Homo sapiens: one gene and its partners. The protein of the gene in region 4 interacts with the protein of the main gene of each other region in a biochemical or structural test. Each region holds a gene or a part of one and is shown on either strand. Other genes may lie near its edges. The genes, in order: POLI, TBP, GTF2B and GTF2E2.

The links.
Region 1: the proteins of GTF2E2 (region 4) and POLI form a complex in vitro, tested with the Homo sapiens proteins (one large-scale study listed by BioGRID).
Region 2: the proteins of GTF2E2 (region 4) and TBP form a complex in vitro, tested with the Homo sapiens proteins (2 studies listed by BioGRID).
Region 3: the proteins of GTF2E2 (region 4) and GTF2B form a complex in vitro, tested with the Homo sapiens proteins (one study listed by BioGRID).

Annotation. Positions count from the first base shown.
Region 1 is NC_000018.10:54,272,515-54,278,812, reverse strand, and holds part of POLI (DNA polymerase iota isoform a (long)), read right to left. Parts: intron 4,888-6,298; coding exon 4,723-4,887; intron 1,111-4,722; coding exon 958-1,110; intron 1-957. UniProt on the Homo sapiens protein: Error-prone DNA polymerase specifically involved in DNA repair. Plays an important role in translesion synthesis, where the normal high-fidelity DNA polymerases cannot proceed and DNA synthesis stalls. Favors Hoogsteen base-pairing in the active site.
Region 2 is NC_000006.12:170,562,177-170,570,050, reverse strand, and holds part of TBP (TATA-box-binding protein), read right to left. Parts: coding exon 7,818-7,874; intron 5,507-7,817; coding exon 5,419-5,506; intron 3,134-5,418; coding exon 3,042-3,133; intron 440-3,041; coding exon 272-439; intron 1-271. UniProt on the Homo sapiens protein: The TFIID basal transcription factor complex plays a major role in the initiation of RNA polymerase II (Pol II)-dependent transcription.
Region 3 is NC_000001.11:88,860,568-88,868,441, forward strand, and holds part of GTF2B (transcription initiation factor IIB), read right to left. Parts: intron 3,548-7,874; coding exon 3,414-3,547; intron 1-3,413. UniProt on the Homo sapiens protein: General transcription factor that plays a role in transcription initiation by RNA polymerase II (Pol II). Involved in the pre-initiation complex (PIC) formation and Pol II recruitment at promoter DNA.
Region 4 is NC_000008.11:30,607,919-30,615,792, forward strand, and holds part of GTF2E2 (transcription initiation factor IIE subunit beta), read right to left. Parts: intron 6,798-7,874; coding exon 6,690-6,797; intron 4,564-6,689; coding exon 4,381-4,563; intron 1-4,380. UniProt on the Homo sapiens protein: Recruits TFIIH to the initiation complex and stimulates the RNA polymerase II C-terminal domain kinase and DNA-dependent ATPase activities of TFIIH. Both TFIIH and TFIIE are required for promoter clearance by RNA polymerase.

The DNA of each region.
Region 1 (6,298 bases), on a different chromosome or scaffold from region 4:
TTGTCTTGTATGTGGTATGATAGGGGAGTCACCAGCAGAGTCATAAGATGTCTGAAAGCCTAATCAGATATTCACTGGTGCTTACTGCAGCTTATTTTCAAATGTAAATATCACTGGAAACACCATCAGTCATTCATATCTCAATATATGAAGGAGACAAACCATTCTGCTTTCTTGCTAACTTTGACAAAGATTATTTGAACAGATTAAATAGGAGCTTGGAGAAGATTCTAGCACATGGCAGATAGCCCTGGACAACATTCCAAAAGTGCTAACTTGGGAATTCAGAGAGCAACATGAGGGTCTCAGGGGAATCGAAGTGAACATGTAAAACACACATCAAAGGGGAATCGAAGGGAACATGTAAAAGACACATCAAAGGCAAATCTAGCCTACCTGAAAACTCTGCTTAGAGATTGTTTTAGAATAATAAAAAATTATTCCAAAAAGCATATTAAGAAGCCAACTCTTACAACTTAAGAATGACCTACAGAGGTATGGCTTTTTGTTTCCTTAAGAGATGGGATCTTGCTCTGTTGCCTAGGCTGGACTCAAACTCCTGGGTTCAAGCAATCTTCTCAGCTCAGTCTCCCAAACAGCTGGGACTACAGGGGCGCTCCACTGTGCCCAGCTGGGTATGGCTTTCTAAAATGGGAACCAATGCACTGTGTCAGACGAAAACTCTGCACAGATGAATGCTCTGTGCAGATGAACAGGAACAATGCTCTGTGCAAATGAAAAGTGCACAGAGCATTGAGCTACATGTCATCAAAATCTTAACACTTATTATGGAATAGCAGCACCTAATTTTAGCTGTCCTAGACAGATTACTGACTAAATATAACTATACCTCCAACAAAAGTCATGAATCTTTCAGAATCACACAGCGAACTCACTGAACATTAAGAAATGTATGTACTTTTGGTTAGTAGGTAGAATGAATAAGAACCCACTCACACTGATTATTGTATACATGACCCGACACAGTCACCGCAGAAAGTTCATCACTTTGCAGCTGCTGTAGTCTCTTCTCAACCATTTCTGTTAGATCCACAAAATTTTCATCAAATCCAAGTCTCTCAACAACTGGACTAAATTCTTCCAGTAATTCTAAATTGAAATAATATTGGAGCACAAATGTAAATGAAGTTATAACTAGGATAAATTTAACTATCTAGTGCTTAAAAATTTATCAAATTTATTGTTAAAGGTTTTATATACATTCATAGTTCCATAATATCTTTAATAAAGCCCTCAGTTAATTGACGTTTTTTCTGTACCACATCTTGTATAAAGGCAATATTTTCAAAAAAGTCTAAAAATGACATTCCTAGGGCAGTTATTCATGGCAATATATCTAGCTCAATCTTCTACACCTATAATTTTTATATCTGTAGTACATTAAATATCAATGCTTATAGTAAATTGGTGACCTTGAAGAAATGTGTCAAAGAATAAACTATAGGCTGCTCAGGAAAGTTAAAAACAAGTAATAGTATATTTTAGCTATATTTTCTCCAAGAGTTTAAAAGAGGCAAAACAAAATAATATTTAAAATGTCCAATTATTACTGAATAAAACAGAAAGTCAGTCAACTTTCAAAATATACTATAACGTGGTATTTTTATTAGCCATTCCCAAGAATATTCCTTAGGACAGAGAGGCAGAGATGAACCACAACTTACAGGTATTCAAATGCCCAGCGTCTAGCACAATATCTAGTCCTCAAGTCAAATGTTTACTAGATTAAGCTGAACCAAAATTCAAAATAAATTCAAAAAAACTATCAATTTTCATATATTAACATTGAGACTAATAACTTTAAAATCATTGAGAAAGTTTTTCACTTCCCTCTGAATCACTTTCTACTGACACCAGCTGGATAAGAGAAAACAAATGCAAGTCTCTTAGTATACAAAAATGCATAGATTCTTAAGGTCATATAATCTGAAGCTCAGAAATAAAAGGACTATCTCATTCCACATAGATCATGTTTTTTCACAAACACCAAAGGTGCTTTTTTGTTTTGTTGATGTCAACATTGACAATGTGAGGGGAAACCAATAAAGGTAACAATGTGACATGGCAAACACCAAAAATCACTCCTGAGAAAACTATTACCTAGAGAAAACTATTACCTCCTTTCAGGACAGACTGACAATATGTCTAATCAAAGAAAATGATTGTTTTGCATTTCCTTCATCAATTTCGGCAATTTATTTTCAAAAGTATATACCTGATATGCAAAGTAACATGTAGAAAACAAGAGTTTATCAAAAGAATACTACATAAGAAAAATAAAGGATAAGGCTTTAAGCACTAAATAGAAAAGCAAGTTAAATACAGAATCATGCACGAAGCTGGTGGATCACTAAATATTGACTGATTTTAGGTCACAGGACAAATCCCTAATTATCCCGTCCCTGAAGGTTTTTGTTGTTGCTGTAGTTTTAATGAGACAGGGTCTCACTGTTGCCCAGGCTGGAGTGGAGTAGCACACCACAGCTCAGTACAGCCTTGACCTCCTGGGCCCAAGCAATCCTCCTACCTCGGCCTCTGGGACTGCAGGCACATGCTACCAGCTAACTTTTTTTTTTTTTAACTTTTGTAGAGACAGGGTCTTGCTATGTTATATTGCCCAGACTGACCTCAAATGATACCCCACCACAGCCTCCCAAAGTGTTGGGATTACAGGCATAAGCCACCATGCCCAGCCTCCATTCCTGAAGTTAACCTCTTTCTTGGTATCAACTTCATAAGCAAGATACATTTATTAAACATATAATTATATAGGGCCCAAAAGAGGAGTCTGTAATTACAGAAAAAAAAAATACCTTGAAGAAAGGTATATATGCAGTAGCATCAAAATATGAAATAAATAATAAGGTTATAAACAGATCAGAGATAAATACAGTAAAGGACTAACTGGCTACGCGCCTACTTCAACTCAGAAAAATACTGTGAGAAAAATTGATAAAGTAACTTTTTTCAAAAAATACCTAACACAAAAAGTACTAGGTACTTAGTACTTAGAAAAAGATGAACAACCCAAATTAAAAACAGGTGCAAGTGAATACGTTAACAGAAAAAAATACATAAATGACCAAAAATATATGAAAAAATACTCAACCTTACTCATGGAAAACTGCAAATCAAAACAATGATTTACTCTTCTTCATCTATATGATGAATATGAGAGGAGGCATTTAGGCCATAATTTTACACATTTGGAAAAACATGATACATGACTTTGTACCTTGCCTTTTATTCACTCAACAAGCCCTATCTCCATCAGTCAAATAGTATTGCACCAATGAATTCTTTTTAATGGCTATATAATATCCATTATACAGATGTTTTAGTTTATTTGGCTATTTCTCTTGATGGGCATTTTTCCTTCCATACTTTTGACAATCATAAACCATGCTATGATAAACATTGTTGTACATATGTCTTTATGTACTTGTGGTTCTCTTTCTTTTTTAGAGACAAGAGTCTCACTCTGTCATGCGCACTCAGGCTGCAATGCAATGACACAATCACGGCTCACAGCCTCGAGCTTCTAGGCTCAAGCAATCCTCCTACCTCAGCTCCAAAAGTGCTGGGATTACAGGTATGAGCCACAATACCCAGCCTTATGATTTTATTTCTATTTGATAAACTCCCAGCAATGATATCACTGGATTGAAGAACATTCATCTTTAAACTCAGTAAGTGTTCTTGATACTTTTTTCTCACATTGCTTTTAATTTTGGGCAAGTATGACAGATATAAAATATCTTACTAATTCAAATTTCCTTGGCCACTAATGAATTTGAGCATTTTTTCCCTATAATTGTTAGACACTGGGTTAGGCTCTTCTTGTCAACTGCCTATTCATATCCTTTGTCCTTTGTTATTAGGTTTATTTTTCCTGTTAATTTCTAAGAGGTCTTTGTATATTATAGACATTTAATCCAGTCATCTGAAAATTGCTATCATAAAAGAAAAACAAAAAAAGTAAAAAAGACAAATAATTGCAAAGCTGATCATTATACATTTTTACACTATATATTAAGTAATTGCGGTTTTCGCAATTAAAAGTAATTGTGAAAGCCACAATTACTTTTGCATCAACCTACTATATTTGCAATGTGCCAGTGCACACTCATTTTCATTTTTCCTGTAATTTACTATAACACTAAGATTTAAACCCAAACCTTAGCATAGGAAAGTTTAGCTACATTGTAATATTTAGTATATATATAAAACCTAAGAAAATATTAATATATCCAATATTTTTATTAATATTTCATAAGAAATCAGTTTTTAATTATGTTGATCAAATGTTACAGAAGCCTCTTTCAATTATCATTAGTGCATTAGAAAACAACATATTTCTTCGTAATTCATTTAAACTTAAAATTTTAAAGACCTGGCATCTTTTACAGTACAGTTTCCCATTTTCTCACTTTTAAACTTTGTTTTCCACTTTTCCCTGTTATATAAACATCAATAATAAGAGTTAAAATTACTTCCAACTATACATCTTCTTAAAAATACTATTCATAGCATACAGTTATCCTTTCACATAATTTTTAAAGTTGACAAGACCCAAAATAAGAAGTTATTAGGAAAAAGCATCTTGACTTATGTTATTTTACATTTATTAAAAAATTCATGTAATGAACAGGCATCCTACATAAAAATTAATGCTAAAAGTACATTGCTTATCATTTGTACCTGTAACCTTATAAGACATTTCTCTGTAGCGGGTCAGGTCTTCTCCATTAACTAATACCAACTGTGGACACTTTTCTTTTGCATCTCTGACATTCATAAGTTTCTTAACTCCAAGTTTCCTAGCTTCATAGTTGCAGGTAACCACCAAATATTTCTGTTGAACCCCTGTAAAAAATATTTTATGAGAAACCCAAGCACAATTGAAGAAAACATTTAAAGATATTATTAATTCCGTATTACATTTGTCTAAATTGTAAGACAATCAGTTTTGATAAGAATCAAAAGCCCTGTCTCAATTAAAAAACATAGCCTCCATATATCAAATCTCTATAATGCAGAAACATTAGGTTTTCAAGCTATCTCCTAATTATGAATTATAATATACCAATGTATTATTTTTCCATACCCCACTTTTAATCTCTAGTTGTTTTGTCTCCTTGAAGAAGGAAAGTTATTATTAAATAACAAAACACTGAATAACACAGAATTAAAAGTTAGACGATAGATCAATTATTCATATACAAAAGGCAATCTATGTATTACATTTCTAAAATTTAAAAATGAACCTAAATCAATATATTCTATGGAATCTTCAGTGATAAGATACAAATCAAATCTCTCTAGGATTTTTTTCCAGACAATATAAAAGCAGATTAATTTATACTGCCATATAATAGGGCATGTTCTACCAAAAAAAAAAAAAACGGATGAAAATAATTGAGTACAACTAAATACTGGTTGCTGCTAGAAAAACTCAACTTCTCTTCTCCGTAACTTGCTAATATAAAGCAATATAAAATATAATATGTATATAAAATATATAAAACAAGTGCTGGGCTACAGCAATTTTTAGGGATCTAACAGTTATGTACTACTTATTGAACTGTTCTATCAAAAATGATTAAATTATGATCATTTATTTACAGACTGCATAAAAAATTCTAGTTTATTGGTGACTCAAGATTGCTAAAAATTATTTGCTCTTTTTTTATACAAGTTGACTACTTGCTTACCACTGTAAGAGTAATGTTCACCTAAAATATGTAAAATACAAACATGTAGAAAAAAAAGGTTATGTCCACTTCTCTATTAGACATTGTTTCTAAAATTTTGATATCATAAACAACATTATTTTTATATAAAGTTTTTTCATATATCAGGTAATGCCCAAAAATATAATCATGGAACCAAAGGTAATAATAATTTGAGATTCCTCAGTGAACTACATAAAAAATCAGATTGCTAGATTTCTTAACTAAAAAAAGGAGTCCTTTAATAGAGCATTACATTATATGGCCTCATCACTGCATGTCACTACTGGTCGGGCACGGTGGCTCACGTCTGTAGTCCCCGCACTTTGGGAGGCCAAGGCAGGTGGATCGCCTGAATTCAAGCATACGAGACCACCCAGGGCAACATGGTGAAACCGTCTCTACTAAAAATACAAAAAAATTAACCGAGTATGGTGGCGCACACCTCTAGTCCCAGCTACTTGGAAGGCTGAGGCAGGAGAATCACCTGAGCCCCAGAGGCAAAGCTTGCAGTAAGCCAAGATCGCACCACTGCACTGCAGCTT
Region 2 (7,874 bases), on a different chromosome or scaffold from region 4:
AGCAATAAAACGATAAAACATACAGAAGTAGAATCAAATTCATTCCAGTAAAGGGGAGTTATGGGTACCGCAAAGTGATAAGGGAAGCAGAGGCTGGTGAGGGTGATAAATATGACTGAGAACATCAGGAAGACAATGCAAGAATACATACAACTATAACCATGTCAACTGTTCTCATATACTGAATATTTTGCATGTGTTTTATTCTGAACAATGTTTAGATTATAAATGAACTGTTGCCAATAACAATCATAATACATTTCAGACTTACCTACTAAATTGTTGGTGGGTGAGCACAAGGCCTTCTAACCTTATAGGAAACTTCACATCACAGCTCCCCACCATATTCTGAATCTTGAAGTCCAAGAACTTAGCTGGAAAACCCAACTTCTGTACAACTCTAGCATATTTTCTTGCTGCCAGTCTGGACTGTTCTTCACTAGGGAAAGGAAAAAAGTGAGTTATTCATACTCAGAGCCAGCTAAAATACTTATTTAGACTAATAACTTATAAAAAGTCCAAAACAGTAAACTAATAAAGTGTAAACTGGTCAGCCTTCTTGCAATAGGAGAAAAGACTGACAGGCATTCACAATTCCTTATAAAGTATTCCTGGATCCTTGACAGAAAACTGTAGGCCTGCCAAAATGACCTTTCAATCCGCCAAATTATTGTAGCCCTAGATTTTATGGATGTGAATTATCACCATCATCAGTCATCACTATTTCTGTATTTTAGCCCATGCATTTCTACTGAGAGGAAAACTAACAAACTTCATTTTGATCAGAAAATGTTGATGAGATTTATTATTGAACAATGTATTCACTAATTCTATCCTCTTTTATACCAAGACTCATCATGAATAGACATTCCTATGTCATTTGTTGAATAAACTACGACTTAGCAGTTCAGAGCTTACATAAGAAAAGCAGAATGTGGGCCAGGCATGGTGGCTCACGCCTCTAATCCCAAGCACTTTGGGAGGCCAAGGCGGATAGCTCACCTGAGGTCAAGAGTTCGAGACCAGCTTGGTCAACATGGTGAAACCCTATCTCTACTAAAAATACAAAAATTAGCTGGGCATGGTGCCAGGCACCTGCAATCCCAGCTACTTGGGAGGCTGAGGCAGGAGAATCACTTGAACCTGGGAGGTGGAGGTTGCAGTGAGCCAAGATTGTGCCACTGCACTCCAGCCTAGGTGACTCCACCAAAAAAAAAAAAAAAAAAAAAAAAAAAGAAAAGGAAAGAAAGAAAGAAGAGAAAAAAAGAAAAAATAAAAGAGAAAAAGGCAGGCAGGCAGGTCGGGCACGGTGGCTCACACCTGTAATCCCAACACTTTGGGAGGCTGAGGCAGGCGGATCATGAGGTCAGGAGATTGAGACCATCCTGGCTAACACAGTGAAACCCCATCTCTACTAAAAATACAAAAATTAGCCAGGCATGGTGGTGGGCACCTGTAGTCTCTGCTACTCGGGAGGCTGAGGCAAGAGAATGGCGTGAACCCAGGAGGCGGAGCTTGCAGTGAGCCGAGATCATGCCACTGCACTCCAGCCTGGGCGCAGAGCGAGACTCCATCTCAAAAACAACAACAACAACAAAAAAGAATGTGAAAATATTACCATAAAGAGACTATCAGGTGCAGGGGATCAGGAAGAACAAAAATCAAGCATATATATATATGCTACGCTTTTAAATTTCAGGTAAATGTATTGGTGGTTTCTTGTCTTGATGAAATAGTCATCCAACTACATATACAATATTCAGTTTTCAGATGCTCTGGGACAAAAAGGCTAAATGCTGCATGAAAAGCTTGCCTTGATAAACCAAAAGTTTCTGATGTTCCATGCAGGGGAAAACAAGCAAACAAAAACGCTCTTAATTAAAGAGGTTACTACTGCATGTTGTGGCCAAGGGGAAGTGAAAGGCAAGAACACATCCTTGTCCTGCATTCTGAAAAACCTCGGAGATCAGGAGCCAGAATGTCCACACCAATGGCATTCCCATCACTGAAAGACAATTTCAAACTTCAGAATAAGCAAAAATATCCACAGCCCCCTTCTATGTGTTGATACCTCCAAGTACATTTAATACTCTTTCATTTAAAAAGTTTTAGTTTATTTGTTCAGTTCATTTATGAAGCTAATGTCACTAATTTTCCCCCTAGTTTTTGACTTCTACCAAGTATATAAGCTCTGTTTAGAACAGTCAGGGCCGCAGAGTACTAACCTTCAGACAGGATCACTTCAGATGGAGAATATAGGCAATGACATTTTATAACAAGGGTGCATTCCTTAAGATCTGCACAACTCAAACACTATTAATGAAAGCTAGTTCCAGTGAGAAGGCAGGTTTCTGCAGCCAACACATGTGATGCTGTCACGCTGCCAGGCCCAATAAGGTCTGCAAAGCCCTTACACCATTAGCTTAGAAGTGTTTTAATTCTTGATCAATTTTTTCTTCCATTTCAAGATGTATTTGTGTTATTTACAACATTTTTCACATAAAGGGAATTTTATTAATAGTTCTGATGTTGTATTACATCTTACCTAATTTTTTTCTTTTTTCTGGAGAAAGTGTCTTGTTCTGTCTCCCATGCTGGAGTACAGTAGCATGATCTCAGCTCACTGCAACCTCCACCTCCCGGATTTAAGCGATTCTCGTGCTTCAGCCTCCCAAGTAGCTGGGACTACAGACATCCACTACCACGCCTGGCTAATTTTTGTATTTTTAGTAGAGATGGAGTTTCACCATGTTGGTCAGGCTGGTCTCGAACTCCTGGCCTCAAGTGATTTGCCCGCCTTGGTGAGACACCACGCCTGCCCATATCTAATTTTTAAGAAAATGAAATCACTGCTATCTAACATTAATAGAATCAAATAATAAATAAATAAATAAAAATAATTAATAGAATCATATTAAAATGGTTTTTATAAGAAAGCAATAATAACATGTTAAAGTGCTAACCTAATAACCTAAAAACAATGAGATATCACCTTTTCATTCATAACCCATAGACCAGAAGAATGAATTTCTTACGGCTACCTCTTGGCTCCTGTGCACACCATTTTCCCAGAACTGAAAATCAGTGCCGTGGTTCGTGGCTCTCTTATCCTCATGATTACCGCAGCAAACCGCTACAATGGTCAGAGAGAATCATTAGTGAGGTCATGCCAAACTGCTCAATGTTGTTAGGCGAACCACCCATTGACAAAAAAATCACAACTGGTAGGAAGGACATAGTACATCTAGTTATCAAAATATTTGTTCTGTATTTCTGTATATCTGTAAAGGATTTGCATACACCACATGTAACAAATATTCCTTTGCATAAGGAGCAGAAAATAATCAATTGTGACTAAGTTATACCAAATCTGTATGTTCTTTCACATGAGCATTCCATCAAGAGAAATGTTTGCAAAATTTGGTTATGTTCTCAATAAATACAAGTGCTTCTGTTTCTACTTTATATTTGCTGCTTATCATGACTATAGCTTCTCTGATACATTTTGTTTTATTAATATGAATTTTGAGGCAAATAAACCAATAAACCTTTTCTACCTTAATGGAATTAATAAATCAGATTACAAGCCTATCAATACGTAATGAAGTAAAATCATGCTTTCAATTGGTCTTTAGAAACAATATTAATGTATTAAACACATAAATGCAAATTAGGAAAAAAACACAGTTTTAACTTTTATTTTCTGCTTTTTATGCTTGAAACATGTTAATTCTTTCAGAAAATTTTCTTGCTAAGGTGGTAACTCAAGGGGAAAATATTTCAACTGTGGGTTGAATTAATGGCCTCAGTTATTAGGTACATGATAAAAAGCAAATAATTACTTTGAAACAACTTAAATATTTTAATACATTTAATTATACAATAAAAACCTACATGTTTCTAATTAAGACGACTCTTTGACAAACTAGATTGCTTTAACAATTTTATTTTTTTATTTTATTAATTTTTTTTTTTAGAGACAAGAGTCTCACTTTGTTGCCCAGACTGGAGTGCAGTGGTGCAATCATGGCTCACTGCAGCCTCGAATTCCTGAGCTCAAGAGATCCTTCTGTCTTGGCCTCCCAAGTAGCTGGGATTATAGGTGTGTGCCACCAACCCCAGATAATTTTTTAAATTTTCTGATGAAACAAGGCCTTGCTATGTTGCCCAGGCTCGTCTTGAACTGTTGGCCTCAAGTGATCCTCCCACCTTGGCCTCCCAAAGTGCTGGAATTACAGGTCTGAGTCACCATGCCTGGCTTTTAACAATTTTAGTTTAAAACCTGCTCTATGTCTTCCCTGTGATTTTATCAACATCTAAAAAAGCTAGCAGTATATAGTAGTTTATATACGTCCCAGGAAAAGCCTAGCTATTTTGAATTTCCAGAATTTCCTCTACTATTTTTATTGGTTAAATATCACTTAAGAACGTAAAGTAATAAAATTATGTATTCAACTAAATGTGATTATAATAGATGAAAGATTAATTCTTAGAATGCTACATGTCATACAGACTCATTATGAGTGGTTAAAAGGTGATTTTCAGACCCTTAGCTGTCTTTCAGATCTCAGGCATTATGTTTCAGGGATTTTAAAATGCACCCTAAGTCCATTACTTAACATTTCTCTCAACCCAGCTAATGTTTATCCAAATTACTTTGCCTACTATAGCTGGCTAACATCATCCCTATACATATACAAAATTCTTCACATGATCCCAATACAATACATATATAACTTAGCTTATTTTATAGACTGCTGTACTCCCAGGGATTCTTATATCACAGACACTCAATAAAAGATACAAAACAATGCACATTTTACTTTAGATCTTCATTTTATTGGTGTCAAGGAATAAGCATAACACAAACTCTTTGATATACAGATTTTTTTTTTGAGGCGGAGTCTCGCTCTGTTGCCAGGCTGGAATGCAATGGCGCAATCTCCGCTCACTGCAACCTCTGCCTCCCAGGATCAAGTGATTCTCCTGCCTCAGCCTCCCAAGTAGCCGGGATTACAGGCGCATGCCACCACTCCCGGCAAATTTTTGTATTTTTAGTAGAGACGGGGTTTCACTATGTTGGCCAGGATGGTCTTGAACTCCTGACCTCAGATGATCCGCCCACCTCGGCCTCCCAAAGTGCTGGGATTACACGTGTGAGCCACCAAGCCCGGCCAATTTTTTTTTTTTTTTTAAGAGACAGGGTCTTGCCATGTTGCCTGGGCTGGTGGTGAACTCCTAGGTTCAAGAAATTCTCCTTCCTCAGCCTCCCAAAGTGCTGGGATTACAGGCATTAGCCACTGTGCCTGGCCTGATCTACAGACATTTGTTTTATAGCGTGAAATACATTAAAATATAGAGACACGGCAGAGGAGACAAAAAAGAAAAAAAAAAGAAATACATTAAAATAGATCTAACCTTGGGATTATATTCGGCGTTTCGGGCACGAAGTGCAATGGTCTTTAGGTCAAGTTTACAACCAAGATTCACTGTGGATACAATATTTCTGTAAGAGATTTAAAAAGAAAACACGACTATTTAAATTACTTAAGTTTCATTGGATGAGGCGTTAGAAATTATGCAGACATCTGATTATTTCAACCAGGCTTTACTTTTTTTTAATTGCTCACATTTATTGTTTAACAAGTATCATGCACATGTTGAGCATTTTATATAGATTATTCCATTTAATACATATAACGCACTGAGGTAGAAGTTACCAGTATTCCCACATTTGGATAAATAAGCTGAGGCTTAAAGGTAGAGTGCAACTTGCTCAGGACGCAATGGCTCCCAAGTGGAGGAGCCAGGATTTGAGTCTGTCTGTCTCCAGAGCCTGCCCTTAGCCTTCTCACAGACAAACTCAATTCTCATCTGTGAGCTCTGAAAAGCTACCACCACCACCCTATTCCTAAGTAACTATTTATAATGAAAACAAGCAGGCATGAACTGCCCAGTTCTCTCAAAGTAAGTATCTTTTGAAAAACAAGAGCTAAGTGTCTTTAGCAAAAAAAAAAGGCAAAACCCTGCTTTCTCTTCTAATTAACTCTCAGTAAATAAGGATAAATGGAGCCATCTGGGTCCACTGACCCTTTTCATTTCTCAGTGTTCTTAAATCACTTAACGAATAACTTATACAAGGATAAAGATATACTAAAAAGCAACTCTATTAGAAATTTTAATAAAAATTTAAACAACAAACCCACATTTTCATTATACATTTTTCTGCTTATGAAAGTATATATAGTTGAAATGGGCAATGCCCTTTGAATGCAATTAACTGCTCAACAACTGTCTCGCATGGACCTGGAAATCACCATCCCAAGAATATCGAGTCCAGATTTCAAATACATAGGTTCAAATACAATAGGTTTCAGCTCATTGTTGCTTCTGGTTCTTTTTCTTGTACAGTCTATGATACACAACTGTAAAGCCAATTAGGTTGATCCACACAATGAATGTTTTCATTTCCATATCATCTATTTCCTTCCAATCACCCTTGTATACACACCTGCCTTTAGCATTTGTCCACTTATGAACTATACCAAGTAGATTTTAGTATATCTATCACAACTTTAGTCACATAATTGTTAAATGTATTCTTATATATTTTCATTAATTAAATATTTACCTTAATCCCTCTTAAGCCTACAAGATGGAGAGGGCACTGAACTACCACCCGGGAGGGTTCTTAGTAGATAGTGGAAATTCAGGAATGTGGATGACTGGATGCTCTGGGGAGTATCAGAACAGCAAAGGCACTCGCAAGAAACAAACACCTGACTGTACTGTTTATAATTTATTATTTAAATCAGAAATGCAAACTTAAATATTCCTGGGAGTCAGACAAGCATGCTGGACACATGGGAGTGGTATAGACAAGGGTGAGCTAAAAAGGGCTCTCTCTAAAATCACTAAAATTACTTTGTTTTTAAAATTGTGTGTGGGGTCAAACAAAATTGTGGAGGCAAGATTTAGGTCTTTGGGTGAAAGTCAGCATCCACGATTACACACCACTTAGTTCCAAAAATGATGAGAGATAGCTTATAAACAACAACCATATATGTAACAAGGTGAATAAATGCAAATAGGAAATACTAGATCTAAAGGGAGTATGAAGGAGGAAGGTATCTGTACAAGAAAACTGAGGAGATGCAGAGACTGCAAGTAACCTTTTAATTTGGTCATAAGCTTTCTAAAATGAAAAGCTATACACTTCTTATTGACTGGAATTATTTGGAAATATTTGCTGGTTTTTCAGGAAGATGAAATTATTTCCTACCCCTACTACACTGTTACATATAGAACCCACTTCATTTAGGTAGAAAAATCCATTTATGACAAAAACAGTCGTCTTCATTTTGTGGGAAGGACACAGACCTTCAAAGATTTATATGCAGCACCCATAGTAAAAACAAAAAACAAGAACTACCAGAAATTATACTGATATTGTGACTAAAGACCTAAAATAGCATAAGGGAAAGAGACTACCTAACATTGTGATTTAGCGATATCAGATACAGGGAAATGTCTATAATATAATAATAACGACAGTGAAAGTCAGATTAAATTTTATTGGCTCAGGTATGTAAACACAAATGACCACATTTCTAAACCTGTTAAGAGCCTTTTACTGAGGACACTGACTAAGATAGCTTTGCTTCCCTTTCCCAAATGTGAGATAAAGCAAATTTTGATACACAATTACCGTTAGTGCCACTCCCTCCCTTAATAAAAGGATCCATCTGAAAACAGAGCAGGAACATAACTCAAAGGGACTCCTAAGTGGGAGGAAACATAAAACACGAAGTACTCACTGCAGCTGCGGTACAATCCCAGAACTCTCCGAAGCTGGCGTGGCAGGAGTGATGGGG
Region 3 (7,874 bases), on a different chromosome or scaffold from region 4:
TTAAATACTAGAAAACAGAATCCAACAGCATATTAAAAGGTAGTATATCATGACCAACTAGAGATTGTTCCACAAGATATTAGAGAATCAAATAATGTAAAACATTATATTAATAGATGTAAGAAGAAAAATCATGATCATCTCCAAAGACGCTAAAAAGGCAAATGAACAAAATCAAAATTCGTCTTTGATAAAAACTCATAGGACGCTACAAATGAGTACTTCTTTACATTAGAAAACCACTCTCCTCTGCCCAAAGAAAGTACTATGATTAATGGAGAAACATTACCAGCATTATCACCAAAATCACAAGACAAAGGTACCTCCTACTGCTACCATTTTGTAACACTGATTGGAAAAACTAGCCAATAGTATTAAGCAAGAGAAAAACCGGAAGTACAAAATTGGAAAGGATGTGATAAACTATTTGCAGATAGTACCTTTATACACCTGGAATATGCAAGAAAATCACTAAAAAACAGCTGCTATAAATAATTCATTAAAGCAGCAAGGTCAAGATAAATAGAAATCAATACCCTTCATAAGTACAATCAACCAACTTAAAAGACAAGGAAAGCAAATTTTTCAATTAAAACAACAACAAAAATCTTGAAATAAACTTGAGAAACATGTGAGACGTTCATGAAGAAAACTTTCAAACATCTCCTGAAGGACACATAAGATACCTAAGGAAATGGAAAGGCATTATGAATTTTTGAATACAAGATTTATTATGAAGAAGCCAATTTTCCCTGTGTCAATTTGCAAATGAATCTGACCAAAACCCCAGTGAGAATATTAAATATTAAAAAACAGGCCAGGCGCAGTGGCCCATGCCTGTAATCCTGGCACTTTAGGAGGCTGAGGCAGGCGGATCACCTGAGGTCGGGAGTGTGAGACCAGCCTGATGATCACGGAGAAACCCTACCTCTACTAAAAGTACAAAATTAGCCAGGCGTGGTGGCACATGCCTGCAATCCCAGCTGCTTGGGAGGCTGAGGCGGGAGAATCGCTTGAACCTGGGAGGCGGAGGTTGCAGTGAGCAGAGATCGTGCCATTGCACTCCAGCCTGGGTGACAAGCGCGAAACTCTGTCTCAAACAAAACAAAACAAAACAGGCCGAGTGTGATGGCACACGCCTGTGGTCTCAGCTACTCAGGAGGCTGAGGCAGGAGGGTTACCTAAGCCTGGGAGTTTGAGGCTGCAGTTAGCTATGATTACATCACTTCACTCTAGACTGGGTGACAGAAAGAGACCCTGTCTCAAAAGAAGAAAACCAAAAAACCCCACAGGAAACAGAATCCAACAGGGTATTAAAAGGCAGTAATATCAACCAAGTGGAGACTGTTCCACAAATATATTAAAGAATCTAATAACATAAAACATCATATTAATAGAGCTGAAGAGGAAAATCATTTAATCAACTCCAAAGGTACAAAAAATGCAAGTGAACAAACCTAAATTTTTTTAAAAAATGAAACAAACTTAACCTTTAAATGGAAAAGACTAGCGAAGAAAATGCTGAAAAAGAGCAATGAGGGAAAACTAGTGCTACTAAATACTAAAACAGTGTTGTATGGCATTTGACTAACTGGACCAGGACAGGAAAAGATAGAAAGTTGAGAAATATGCCCAAGTACACATAGAAATTTATTATGTGATAAATCTAGCAGCTTAAAAATATTTCTATCTTGCCCAGGGATGGTGGATCACACCTGTAATTCCAGCACCTTGGGAGGCCGAGGTGGGTGGATCACTTGAGCCCAAGAATTGGGACAAGCCTGGGCAACATGGCGAAACTTTGTCTCTACAAAAAATACAAAAATTAGCCATGTGTCGTGGCCCACACCTGTGGTCCCAGTTACTTGGGAGGCTGAAGTGGAAGGATCGCTTCAGCCTGGGAGGTGGAGGTTGCAGTGAGACGAGATCAAGCTACTGCTGCACTCCCACCTTAGCGACAGTGTTAGAACGTCTCAAAAACAAAACAGACTATACAGGGTTCGGCATGGTAAACTCATGCCTGTAATCCCAGCACTTTGGGTGCCTGAGGCGGGAGGACTGCTGAAGACCAGGAGTTCAAGACCTGCCTGGACAAGAGTGTCACTCTGTTGCCCAGGCTGGAGTGCAGTCGCGCGATCTCAGCTCACTGCAACCTCCGCCTCCCGGGTTCAAGCAATTATTTGCCTCAGGCTCCTGAGTAGCTGGGATTACAGGTGCCCACCATCATATCATGCCCAGCTACTTTTTGTATTTTTAGTAGAGACGGGGTTTCGCCATCTTGGCCAGGCTGGTCTTGAACTCCTGATCTCCACCCACCTCGGCCTCCCAAAGTGCTGGGATTACAGGCATGAGCCACTGTGCCCAGCCAGACAGATTTTAAACAAGACTTTTTTGGAAAAAAAAAAAAAAGAGACTATGCAATAGTATACATGAAGTTATAAAATGGTGTATACTTCCTTGATTAGCCCTCAGTAATACCGTCACTATTACTTCCAACTCGGATAACAGAGTGAGAATCAGGCTGCCAAGAAAACTATACTATTGCCTTACACAATGATAGCAGCTACCACTGACTGAGCACACAGTATACAATACATGTTATATAAATACTTTACATACATTCTCATGAAACCCTCAAAAACTCTATAAGTACTCTTATTCTCATTTTACAGATAAGGAATGTAAAGTTAGGTAAGTCATAAATTCACTAATATCAGAAAAGAGGTTACACTAACCTCCCATTTATCTTAAGTGGTATAGAGAGAAAAGAGAAGACATTCTTTTCTTTTTTTTTGAGACAGAGTCTCACTCTGTTGCCCAGGCTGGAGTTCAGTGGCGCGATCTTGGCTCACTGCAACCTCCGCCTCCTGGGTTCAAGCAATTCTTCTGCCTCAGCCTCGCGAGTAAGCTGGGACTACAGGTGCCCGCCACCAAGCCTGGCTAATTTTTCTATTTTCCTTTTTTTTTGTAGTAGAGATGGGGTTTCACCATATTTGCCAGGCTGGTCCCGAACTCCTGACCTTGTGATCCGCCTGCCTTGGCCTCCCAAAGTGCTGGGATCACAGGTGTGAGCCATGATGCCCAGCTGAGAAGACATTCTTGATATTCAAAGAACATATCAATATTAACTCATGAAGGCCACACTACACTCATTTTTTGTGTGTACAGAAAATGTCATTTATGAAAAAAGGCCTGATATAAAGGCTTTATAATTTTGATTTAATGGTCTTCCCCACTTTAAGATGGAATACACACACAAGTTAGCCATCATTCACAATGATATTACTGGCAAATCTTATTAGACAGGTCAAGATTCCCCACTGGTGCAGTGACTGATACTTTTGCAAAGTTCCCAAACTCTCAGGTCTATGGTCACTCTGCAATTGGTATTTCCTGCCAAATGGACTTATTACCTTGCCAATCATGGTAGACAAATCTCCATCACTCAGAAGAGGATTCTGAGAATCTCCAACTCGAGATGGATCTTTTGTTGCTTTGTCATTGCTGAAAGTTCGCCATTCAGATCCCACATCAATAACCCGGTCACCTAAGAATATAAGCACATATCTGAATCATTTTGTCAAGATAGGGTTTACTTAACTACACTGTCCAATGCCCAACTAAGCCATTTTATTCCCAGGAAATCTCAACATGGACATCTAGGACCAAGCTTAAATATCACATTTCAGACATTTGTCCTAAAGCATTCCTTTAACTATTGTGCCAATCTAACAATAATCCTCTTGAAACATTATGCTATGATATTCTAACTCTTGGAAGAAAAAGTATTAGTCAAAAGTAGCAAAGTACAGCTATTCATATGTGATGCAAAGGTAAACCAATGTAATAATGATTAAGAACCAGATTTTGCACAAAATTTGCAATAGGCATGGGAAAAAAAGAGAAAACATTTTTTAGAATGGTATTAATGCAAATAATTTCATATTAAAATGTCACTAAGTTTGCGTGGGAAATGCTTCGCAGAAAATAAGCCTAAGCTTCTGTTTCAAAGTAACAATCTGATGAAAAACATACCTGGCCAAATAATTTATACAGAATAAACCTCAAGCCTAGAATCCGTGAGAAGAAAGCCTGGTAGGCAAACTTTTCTCTTTAAGCAAAGAGGCAGCATCTAAATATATCATGTCCAATAAAAGCAGACACAAGTAAACCTTATTATTACTGTTTTGGTGAGAAAGCTCAATGTCTGGCAATACCTTCAGAGTAGACAAAAGTTAACACTGAATACTTAACACATACTACTCACTGTGCCCTTTTGTAAATGTTCTCACTTAATCTTCACAGCCTTATAAAGGTAGGTACCAATTTTATTGCCACTTTACAAATAAGATTAACTAGCCTAAGATCACATAGCTAGAACTGAAACGCACATCAGAGTTTGTTCTACACTCCAATTGTAAAACATGACCTTTTTCAGTGAAGTGTGATGAAGCTGAAAGTAGGAAGGAACCAGACCATTTCATCTTTGTGTATACACAGCAAACAGAAAGAAACAAACGGCAGAAACCAGTTACTGTAGCAATTAGAAGTTACGGTACTAGCAGTCAATTAATATAATAGTCAGGGGTGTGAACTCTGCCCTTTGCTGCTTAGCCTTGGAATATTACTTCATTTCTATGTCTTTATTACCTCAGCTCTAAAATTCTCTTTAACCTCATATTTTAAAGATTATAAAGACTAAGCTATTATAATACCCATGTACAGTGCATGTAAAGTGCTTAAAAAGTAGTACTAAGTGCTCAATATTCACTATTTACTGCTATGAAAATTAGAAAGATAGCAAATATTCTGAGTTTCTCCTTTTTTGTGGGGATGATAAGGGAGACGCATCAGTTTAAAACATTAATCTCCAGCCGGGTGTGGTGGCTCAGGCCTGTAATCCCAGCACTTTGGGAGGCCGAGGCAGGCGGATCACCTGAGGTCAGGAGTTTGAGACCAGCCTGACCAAGATGGAGAAACCCCGTCTCTACTAAAAATACAAAATTAGTTGGTCATGGTGGCACATGCCTGTAATCCCAGCACTTTGCGAGGTCCAGGCGGGCTGTCACCTGGTTGGGAATTTGAGATCAGCCTGACCAACATGGAGAAACCCTGTCTCTACTAAAAATACAAAATAGCTGGGCGTGGTGGCACATGCCTGTAATCCCAGCTACTCAGGAGGCTAAGGCAGGAGAACTGCTTGAACCTGGGAGGTGGAGGCTGTGGTGAACTGAGATCGCAACAAGAGGGTAACAAGAGTGAAACTCCATCTCAAAAAAAAAACAAAACAAAACAAACAAACAAACAAAAATTAATCTCCATAGAAGACTTTAAAAGCTTCCAAGTGCTCCGCTAAGTATTTGATCAGGAGGACAGCAAAGAACAGAGAAAACGGAAGGAATTCCACCTAGACTATGCTAACTTTTTAATTTTTTATATAAAAATTAATTTAAATGCTCATAAACAACCAGAGTATAGTGATCATATAATCTTAGTGATAGATTTAAAAAAAGGCTGGGCATGGTGGTTCACACCTGTAATCTTAGCACTTTGGGAGGCTTAAGCAGGAAAATCACATGAGCCCAGGAGTTCAAGACCAGCCTGGGCAACATGGTGAAACCCTGTCTCTACAAAAAAATACAAAAACAAATTAGCTGGGCGTGGTGGCATGTGCCTGTAGGGAGGCTGAGGTGGGAGGATCACCTGAGCCCAGGAGGTTGAGGCTGCAGGGAGCCATGATTACACCACTGCACTCCAGCCTAGGTGAGGGAGACCCTGTCTAAAGTAAGCAAATGCTCAAGAGAATGATTCATTTCTGAAGCCTCTGACAAAATTTTTCTTTTTTCTTTTCCTTTTTTTCAGACAGGGTCTCACTCTGTTGCCCAGGTTTGAGTACAGTGGTGCAATTTTGGCTCACTGCAGCTTTTGCCTCTGGGGCTCAAGCAATACTTCCACCTTAGCCTCCTGAGCAGCTACAGATATGCACCACCACTGCCTGCCTGGCTAATTTTTGTATTTCTTGTAGAGATGGGGTTTTGCCATGTTGCCCAGGCTAGTCGTGAACCCCTAGGCTCAAGTGATCCACTCACCTCGGCCTCCCCAAGTGCTGGGATTACAGGGGTGGGCCACCATGCACAACAGAAAAACTTTTCTTTAAACAACTGAATCACCAAGGTAAAAGCGGATTATCAGTTGGACTACCATGTGTCCACATTACAAAGGGATTGAGATTAGAGGCAGAGTTCCCATGTGCCATCCCTGTATGCAAGGAGAACACGCAAGGAAGGCAGAAGCAGGACAGTAAGTTAGAAGGCAATTTTAATACATCACACATTGAGCAGGTGGCCCGAAACAAGGAGAAAAGCGTTAGATGGATGGCATTACAAGGATTTATCTGTTTCCTCTTCCTCATAATAAACATCACTAAACTTAGGAAGCAGTTTGAATTATGCAGATTTTAAAAAGATACTTAAAAGTATCATAAATTGTCATTGTGCACTGAAACCTTACCAAACCACTGTGCAGTGAGTACTATTCACCAACAAGCCCATGTCTCAAAGAGATCACACTAAAGAGATCAATTTTTCTTCCTTTTTACAAAATATTTGCTCACTAAAAGATACGTTAGAAAAAAATTACCTGCATTCCCAATACCCAATGACCACTATATTTTCATATATGCTCTGTGTTTTTCGTTCATATGTATGCACCTACGTTTTCCTAAAATTTAGATACTGTGCCTGTTTCATGACAAGCTCTTTTCATTAAATTTATCATAAACACCAGCATGGTATTTTTAGACAGAATTTAGTCCCTTTAATAGCATCCACCAATTAAAGTGATACCATGGTGTTCCCATGCACTTATGTCCAAAGACAGAAAAGACAATCTAACTTTCCTATTTGGCAAAATAAAAACACAAACATGCATAGAACAAAAATAACCGTGGCCTTCAAACCCAGAGTTACTAAATTTTAAGCTAAAAAAAATCAACAAATGTCATCAATAACTTGCAATATTTTTATTAACATACATGAATGTATCAAGAGAATGGCATAAATGAAAAGGCAGGAAGGTATGCCCACATCTTTTAAGTCTCTCTAGAAATCTAAAGATAAACCATTAGTTAGCTAAGATGCTTCATTTCATAGCATTTTCTGAAATACCTTACCATGAGATTCATTTGCTGCCTGCTTTATACTGTTTTTATAAAGACAAGATGGATTTTTTATTTTTTTTAAATGGATTATTTTAAGGTAGTATAGTATAAATAGAAAGCGCAACACTGGGTGGTGATGTAATTTTTCCACATACGTAGGAATGATCTAAATGACTCGTTCAAGAATCTGTGGTTTGTGCTAAGAACCATTCCCTCTTTTTATATTTAACTACTCAAAAGAGCATTCACAAGGAATGAAGTTTCCAAAACAACTCATTTAGCATACCATGCAACTACAACTAGTCCAGCAGATTAAGTGCATGAGTAACAAGAAACAGGGCAAGTCCATTCAGAAAAAATTAGAACACATAAAGAATTTTCATTTGAAGAAAATCTAAATGGAGTAGTATTTTTAAAAGTTGCTCTGGAAGAAAGCTGCGAGACAAAACTTTTTCAAGGGCTAAGTGGTACAAGGCAGCCATGCCTGGGTATAATCTATAGTCAACTTTTGAAAAGGAAGCAGCCAGCCAATTAGCAAATACACAAAACTTCACATATCCTTTAGTGTTCTAGAAACAGAGACACATATGAATTTCCACTAGTTTCCTTCTTAACCACACACTGTAGTCTATGTGAAGATTTATAGTATCAAAGAAAACTTACACTACTATAATATATATGCACGACTCCTCCCTCCACCTAGAGTGTGACCTTT
Region 4 (7,874 bases):
AATAGTGAAATACATGGGCATCCTTCAGTTTTCTTACTGCATTGCCCAAAGGATTACATTACTCCTTTTCAAGAGATATAAAAGATTGGAAGAGTCTTCTTGTTGTCTTTTAACTTTCATTGAGTACACCTGACAAAAAAAATTTTGTATTTTCTACCCTTGAGAGCAAAGACAAGAAAACTGACCAAAGACATTTCACAATTATTAGATGAATCAAAATATGAATGCAAAAAGCCAAATAGCAGCACTCTAGACTATCTGGCAAAAATTCATCATAGGAATAAAGTCTCAAGCTATGGAGTCTTTAGATGACAATAACTCAAGTGAAGATTCTCAAGCTTAAGAATCAACAAGCGAACAAAATGCTTCTCAATACAAAATGGAAACAATATTCTCATCCCGTTATTCACCAGAAGATTATCACACAGTATTTTGTGAAAAGAATCTTTATCATCTCACTTTGCTAAAAGGATATATGACAGTATTCTTCTTTTTGATGTGTTTTCCAAAAATTACTTGATACAGAAGTTTGCTGTGTTAAATTCTTACTAAAATCTCTAATAAAGCTGTTTTCATCATCCCATTATTCTTACTTATGTAAATTATTCATAAAATGACTTAAAGTAGCTTAAAAATAATAGTCCACTAGATCAAGGTGGTAAAAGGTGATAACTACAGGATGAGCAACCCAAATCCCAAAATCTCGAATCCAAAATCCAAAACTTTTTAAGTGCTGACATGACATGCCAAAGAAATACTTACTGGGGGCCAGGTGTGATGGCTCACACCTATAATCCCAGCACTTTGGGAGGCAGGAGGATCATTTGGGGTCAGGAGTTTGTTTGTTTTGAGACGGAGTCTCACTCTGTCAACCAGGCTGGAGTGCAGTGACGCGATCTTGGCTCACTGCAAGCTCCGCACGGTGGCTCACGCCATTCTCCTGCCTCAGCCTCCCGAGTAGCTGGGACTACAGGTGCCCGCCACCACGCCCGGCTAATTTTTTGTACTTTTTAGTAGAGACAGCGTTTCACCATGTTAGCCAGGACGGTCTCAATCTCCTGACCTCGTGATCCACCCGCCTCGGCCTCCCAAAGTGCTGGGATTACAGGCGTGAGCCACTGCACTCGGCCGAGGTCAGGAGTTTTGAGACCAGCCTGGTCAACATGGTGAAACCCCATCTCTACTAAAAATAGAAAAATTAGCTGAACACGGTGGCAGGTGTCTGTAATCCCAGCTACTTGGGAGGCTGAGACAGGAGAATCTCTTAAACCAAGGAGACAGAGGTTGCAGTGAGCTGAGATCACCCCACTGCACACCAGCCAGGGCAACAGAAAGAGACTCCGCCTCAAAAAAAAAAAAAAAGAGAAAGAAAGAAAGAAAGAAATACTCACTGGAGCATTTTGGATTTCAGATTTTCAACTCTGGAATGTTTAAACTGGTATAATGAAAATATCCCAAAATTTGAAAAAAATCCCAAAATCTGAAACAGTTCTGGTCCCAAGCATTACAGATAAGGGACAGTCAAATTGTACATACATAAAATAAATGAAAGAACCTGAAGGCATTGCTAAAAAAAATTAAAGACATGAATAAATGAATTCTGTGCTCATGTATTAAAAAACTTAATACAGTTACGATGGCAATACTACCCAAAGTTACCTATTCAAGGTAATCCCTATCAAAATCCCAATGGCATTTTTTGCAGAAATGGAAAAATCCATCCAAAAATTTATATCAAATCTCAAGGGACCTCAAAAAGCCTGAAATGGTTTAGATCTGTGTCCCCATCAAATCTCATGTCAAACTGTAATCCCCAATGTTGGAGGTGGGGCCTGGTGGGCGGTGACTGGTATGAAGGTGGATTTCCCTCTTGGTGCTGTTCTCCTGATAATGAGTTCTCATGAGATCTGGTCATTTAAAAGTGTGTGGCACCTTCCCCACTCTCTCTTGCTCCTGCTCCGGCCATGTAAGATGAGCCTGTTTCCCCTTCACCTTCTGCCATGATTATAAGTTTCCTGAGACCTCCCCATAAGCTGAGTAGACACCAGCATCATGCTTCCTGGAGAGCCTGCAGAACTGTGAGCCAAATCAATCTCTTTTCTTTATAAATTATCCAGTCTCAAGCATTCCTTTATAGCATTGCAAGAATAGACTAATACATAGCCAAAACAATCTTGAAAAAGAACAAAATTGGTGATCTCACTCTTACTGATTTCAAAATATATTACAGAGCTACATTAATCAGGCCAGGTGCAGTGGCTCACACCTGGAATGCCACCACTTTGGGAAGCCGAGGGTGGGCAGATCACTTGAGGTCAGGAGTTCGAGACCAGACTGGCCAACATGGTAAAACCACATCTCTACCAAAAATAAAAAAATTAGTTGGGTGTGGTGGTGTGTGCCTATAATCCCAGCTAATCAGGAGGCTGAGGCAGGACTACTGCTTGAACCTGGGAGGCAGAGGTTGCAGTGACCCAAGATTGCATCACTGCACTCCAGCATGGGTGACAGTGTGACTCTGTCTCAAAAAAAAAAAAAAAAAAAGGCTACATTAATCAAAACATTGTAGTGCTGGCATGAAGAAAGACATACAGGCAGAATAGAGGGCCCAGAAATAAACCTTCACATATATGGTCAAATGATCTTCCACATGAGTACCAAGACTAAGACTATTCAATGGGCAAAGGACGGTCTCTTCATCAAGACACTGAGAAAACTGGATATCCACATGAAAAGGAATAAAGTTGGACTCTTACACCATATACAAAAATTAACTCTAAATACCTAAGACCCAAAACTATAAAACTCCTAGAAGAAAACATAGGACAAAAGCTTCATGACATTAGATTTGGCAGTGATTTAAACATGATACTAAAGGCACAGGCAACAAAATCAAAAATAGACAAGAGTGCAGCAAACTCAGAAACTGGCAAATTAAAGAGCACAATCAACAGAGTAAAATGGCAACCTACAGAATGGGAGAAAATATTTGCAAATCATGTATCTGTTAAGGAATTAATATCCAGAATATATTTTTTAAAACTCCCACAATTCAACAACAAAAACACAATGGAATATTATTCAGCTTTAAAAAGGAAGAAAATCCTGTTGCAAGTACAACATGGATGAACCTTGAGAATATTATGCTAAGTGAAATAAGCCAGTCTTGGAAAAAGATTCCAAGATTCCAAGCAAACGGGCTAAGGCTAGAAGAACAGAAGAGACATATCATATGCTACCTGCTGTAGGGCAGACAAGGTTTGGAGTAACTGCCCACTTAACCACAAAACAAAACAAATAGAAACACTCTTGGGAGGAATGTAACAGAATCCTGAGTCTTTACACATATTAATATAATCCACAAGGTCTAAGACCCAACAGAAATGTATTAGATATATGAAGAAACAGGAAAATATGACCCATAAAAGAGACAGTCAATGCAGACCAGCTCTGAGATGACTCGGCTGTTAGAATAAGAAGAATTTTAAAGCAGCTATAAGAAATCATACTTAAGGGTGTAACAAAAGATACTTGTCACGAATGGAAAAAAAAGAAAACAAAATTCAGCAAAGAAACAGAAACCAGAAGAAAAATTTACAAAGAAAGACTAGAACTGAAAAATACAATTAAAAAATTCACCAACTGGGCTTAACAAGTTGGAAGTGAAGAAGAAAAGTGAGTGAACTTGACAATGGATTAATAGAACAGAAAAAAAATTGAAATAAATAAACAGAGCCTCAGGGACTTGTAGTACAATACCAGAAGATCTGACATGTATAATTCCATTACCAAGAAGAAGAGACAAAGGGGCAAGTTTTCTTCTACAGGCAGCAAAATGAATGAACCTGCTTAACAAGTTAACATTAATAATGAGCAACTGTGACAAATGGAAACAAGCAGCTTTCCCCAGTGAGTTTCAAATTTAAACTGGAAATGTCATCTGTATCAGTAGGACTTTCATAGATAGCCCCTTTAGGACTTCAAAACAGCCAGGTTATTAACCAATGCTTTCATGTTTTAATGCCTCTAGTTCCTCAGGTAAGGAACATCTACTAGTATTATAGAAGACACTCTTATTTACAAACAGAGCTTACAAGAGAAACTCTATTGCCTTTGAGGAAAATTTTCCAGAAATAGCCTGAACAATCAAACAATCATATAGTAACAGCAACAAGAACCCGTCAAAGTTACACAGAGATGGCTGCTCCCTTTCCTGCTAGGTGGCACAAGACAAATTTCAAACCTTCAAGTGGCTCACTGTAACCCATGTGTATATAATAGAAGCTTTAAAAACAATTGTAAAATGTTTGATATTTTTAAAACCAAGAAGTCATTATTCATTCAAATTATATTAAGACATAGAAAGAAAAGAGAGATTACCTTGACAGCTTTCTGGGAATTGGGCAGTGCTTCTTCTATGTCTTCTAAAAGAATTCCTCCTAATCCTCGCTGGTCATGCTGATCTAAGAGCCTAAGTAGGGCCTTCTTATCTCTCACGTTGTACTTGGGCTTGAAAGCATACTTCCCATCTATTACTTCAATTTTGGGATTGTTGACTAAAGCCTGTAACAGTGATACAATTGGAATATATTAACAAATGGAACATAAATATATATATATATTTTTGAAACGTAATCTTGCTCTGTCGCCCAGGCTGGAGTGCAGTGGCGTGATCTCAGCTCACTGCAACCTCCGCCTCCTGGGTTCAAGCGATTCTCCTGCCTCAGCCTCCCTCTCCTGCCTCCCTCCCTCTCAGCACCTGGGACTGCAGGTGCGCACCACCACACCCAGCGAATTTTTGTATTTTTAGTAGAGACGGGGTTTCACCACATTGGCCAGGCTGGTCTTGAACTTCTGACCTCAGGTGATCCACCCACCTCAGCCTCCCAAAGTACTGGGATTATAGGCGTGAGCCACTGTGCCCAGCCCATATACACATTCTTAATTCTACTAATTATTTTAAAATACAACACTAGCCAATACAGTGGCAAATTAAAAGTACCTTATGAATACAAACTGGCAGGCCTAAAATCCTGGACATCCAGAATTCCAGAACAGTAGATCAGCACGGTGCTCACTTTTTATAAAAGAAACTGTGTTTTATTTACATAAATTCTTTGAAGAGAAATAAACCATTTTATCACAACTACTTTGAAAAAAGCTGAACCCATATTCTTCTAGTAGTCAAAATGTGTAGGAATCAATAAAACACCTACAAATATTAATAGACAAAGTGAACTGAGTAGTGCCCACTCCATCTGCAAAGTACAGCTTATCACATACTGGCATTATAAAGTAAGGAACATAACCCTTACTAGTCAATGGTCTTCCCCATCTGCTATCAACTGGCAATGGCAGCTGTGGAAGGAACTGAAAAGGACCAGACTAGTGCATACAAGAACTTTACCTATAATGTCAGCTTGAGAATGAAACTGAGTAGGAATGCAGGAATTACTGAATATAATTATGTTTCTAGTCAGTTCTGTTGTACAGTTAGTATCAGAAGGAAAGCTCTTCAAAAAGAGCAACCCTATATATTTTCTTCTGCAGCTGCCAGCCTGACCCTGAAAGGAGAAAGAGAAGAAACACAGAAAGAAGAAAAAAGGGAGAATAGAATAGTAAAATGATCAAAGTCATTGTTAACTAAATGTTGGTAGTCTATGAATTCTCAAGGTTAGCTAAACCAGCAAATTTAAATGTGGATTACCATTGTTTGTGTATCACTAATACAATGAACTACAATTATACTGATTAATGGTCATGTTACATTATAAAAGTCAAGACCTGTATTTTGCTTGGTAAAAAAATAAATGAATTGTATGTTAGGAATTTTACATTTGGTTTCTAGAATCTATCTCTGGTCCTAGAAAGTAGTCTTCTTAGTTTTCACTTCATATTTTAAAGCGGTAAACATTTGAATTTTTAAATGCTATTCATTTCCAAATTAGCATGGTCACTGACTGCGTTGGGGTTTCTTCAAATGATGTGTGTTCATACACAGCATTCGCGACTTTTTTTCCACATCAAGCCATAATAGCAGTAATTGTGCAACAAAATATCTTCCTATCCCTGCAGTACCTTATGCTTTAAATTTCCTAAAACAAAAACAATTCAATTTACAAGCACACAAACTATAAATCTGGCAATACAAAATAAGCATTAATCTGTAAAAACATTAAGTCGAATTGGTACAATGACTTCTTTACAACTATTACACAAAGTCTTACCTTTAACATTTTGAAACAGATAACATAAAATTATATGAAAACCAACAAATCAATCTTATAAATGTGTACATTCAAAAAACAAAGACCCTACACCATTTCTTTTAAGAAAAAGTAAAAAGCATTATCAGATTTCACCATATTAAAACATTCTAGGCAAGGCGCAGTGGCTCATGCCTATAACCCCAGCACTCTGGGAGGCCGAGGTGGGCGGATCACTTGAGGTCAGGAGTTCAACACCAGCCTGGCCAACATGGTGAAACCCCGTCTCTACTAAAAACACAAAAATTAGCCTGGTATCGTGGCACATGCCTGTAGTCCCAACTACTCGGGAGGCTGAGTCAGCAGTGGGCTGAGATCATGCCACTGCACTCTAGCCTGTGCAACAGAGCAAGACTCTGTCTTAAAAAAAAAAGAAAATTCTAGTTACAGGAAATCTCTCTTGATAATCAACTAAATTCTTACCTCAGTCATTAGCCATTGTTTCTGCTTGAGTCCAATATCTAAATGTTGTGTTTCATCCAAAATTTCATCTAAGGTTAGAGGATGCGTATCTCCTCGCTGATGCCGTGTCTATCAAGTGAAGAAATTGTTATTAGAAGACAGTTTCAAAATGCTAGATGCATTAAATCATAGTTACATGTAAACAAACCTTCAGGAATGAAAAACATGTATTATTCCAGGTAGCATAATTATAGTGACGAAGAGCCATAGACCATGAAATCAGAATGGGGTTGAAACTCATTGCTCTATAAAATCAAAAGACAAACTGACAAAAAAATATATGCAACTCGTATCACCAAGAGCTATATTCTTCCTAACATTTCAAGAGCTTCAAAAAACTAACAAAATAGACCAGGCACAGTGGCTCATGGCTGTAATCCCAGCACTCTGGGGGACTAAGGCAGGTGGGATCACTTCAGGTCAGGTGTTCGAGACCAGCCTGGCCAACATGGTGAAACCCCATGTCTACTAAAAATATAAAAATCAGCCGTGCATGGTGGTGCATGCTTGTAATCCCAGCTACTTGGGAGGCTGAGGCAGGAGAATCGCTTGAACCTGGGAAGAGGAGGCTGCAGTGAGCTGAGATCATGCCACTGCACTCCAGCCTGGGAGGCAAGAGCAAGACTCTGTCTTGAAAAAACACAAAACTAACAGAAAATGACCCAAAGACAGAAACGCGCAGATTGCAAAAAATGACCTTAAACATAGGAAAAGACACTCAACTTTCACCAAACAATCCTATTTCTAGAAACTTATCCTACAGAAATACCAGTACCACACAGAAAAGTGACTTATGGTCACTGTAGCATTGTTCATAAAAGGAAAATATTAGAAATAACCCAAGCGTCCATATTAGAAGACAGATTAACTACAGCACATCCATTCCACTACACAGATGTTCACAAAGTAAATGTAAAAGTTCTCTATGTGCTAATTTGAAAAGATGTCCAAGACAAATTAATAAGTTAAAAAACATATGTATCATGCCTATCCAAAGAAAACACACACACACACGTAGATACCAAAAGCTAGAGAGGATGCAAAGGAACAGGAGCTGTCATTCATTACTGGTGAGTATGCTAAATGGTACAGCTACTGTGGAAGACAGTTCAGCAGTTTCTTACAACACTAAACACACTCTTACCA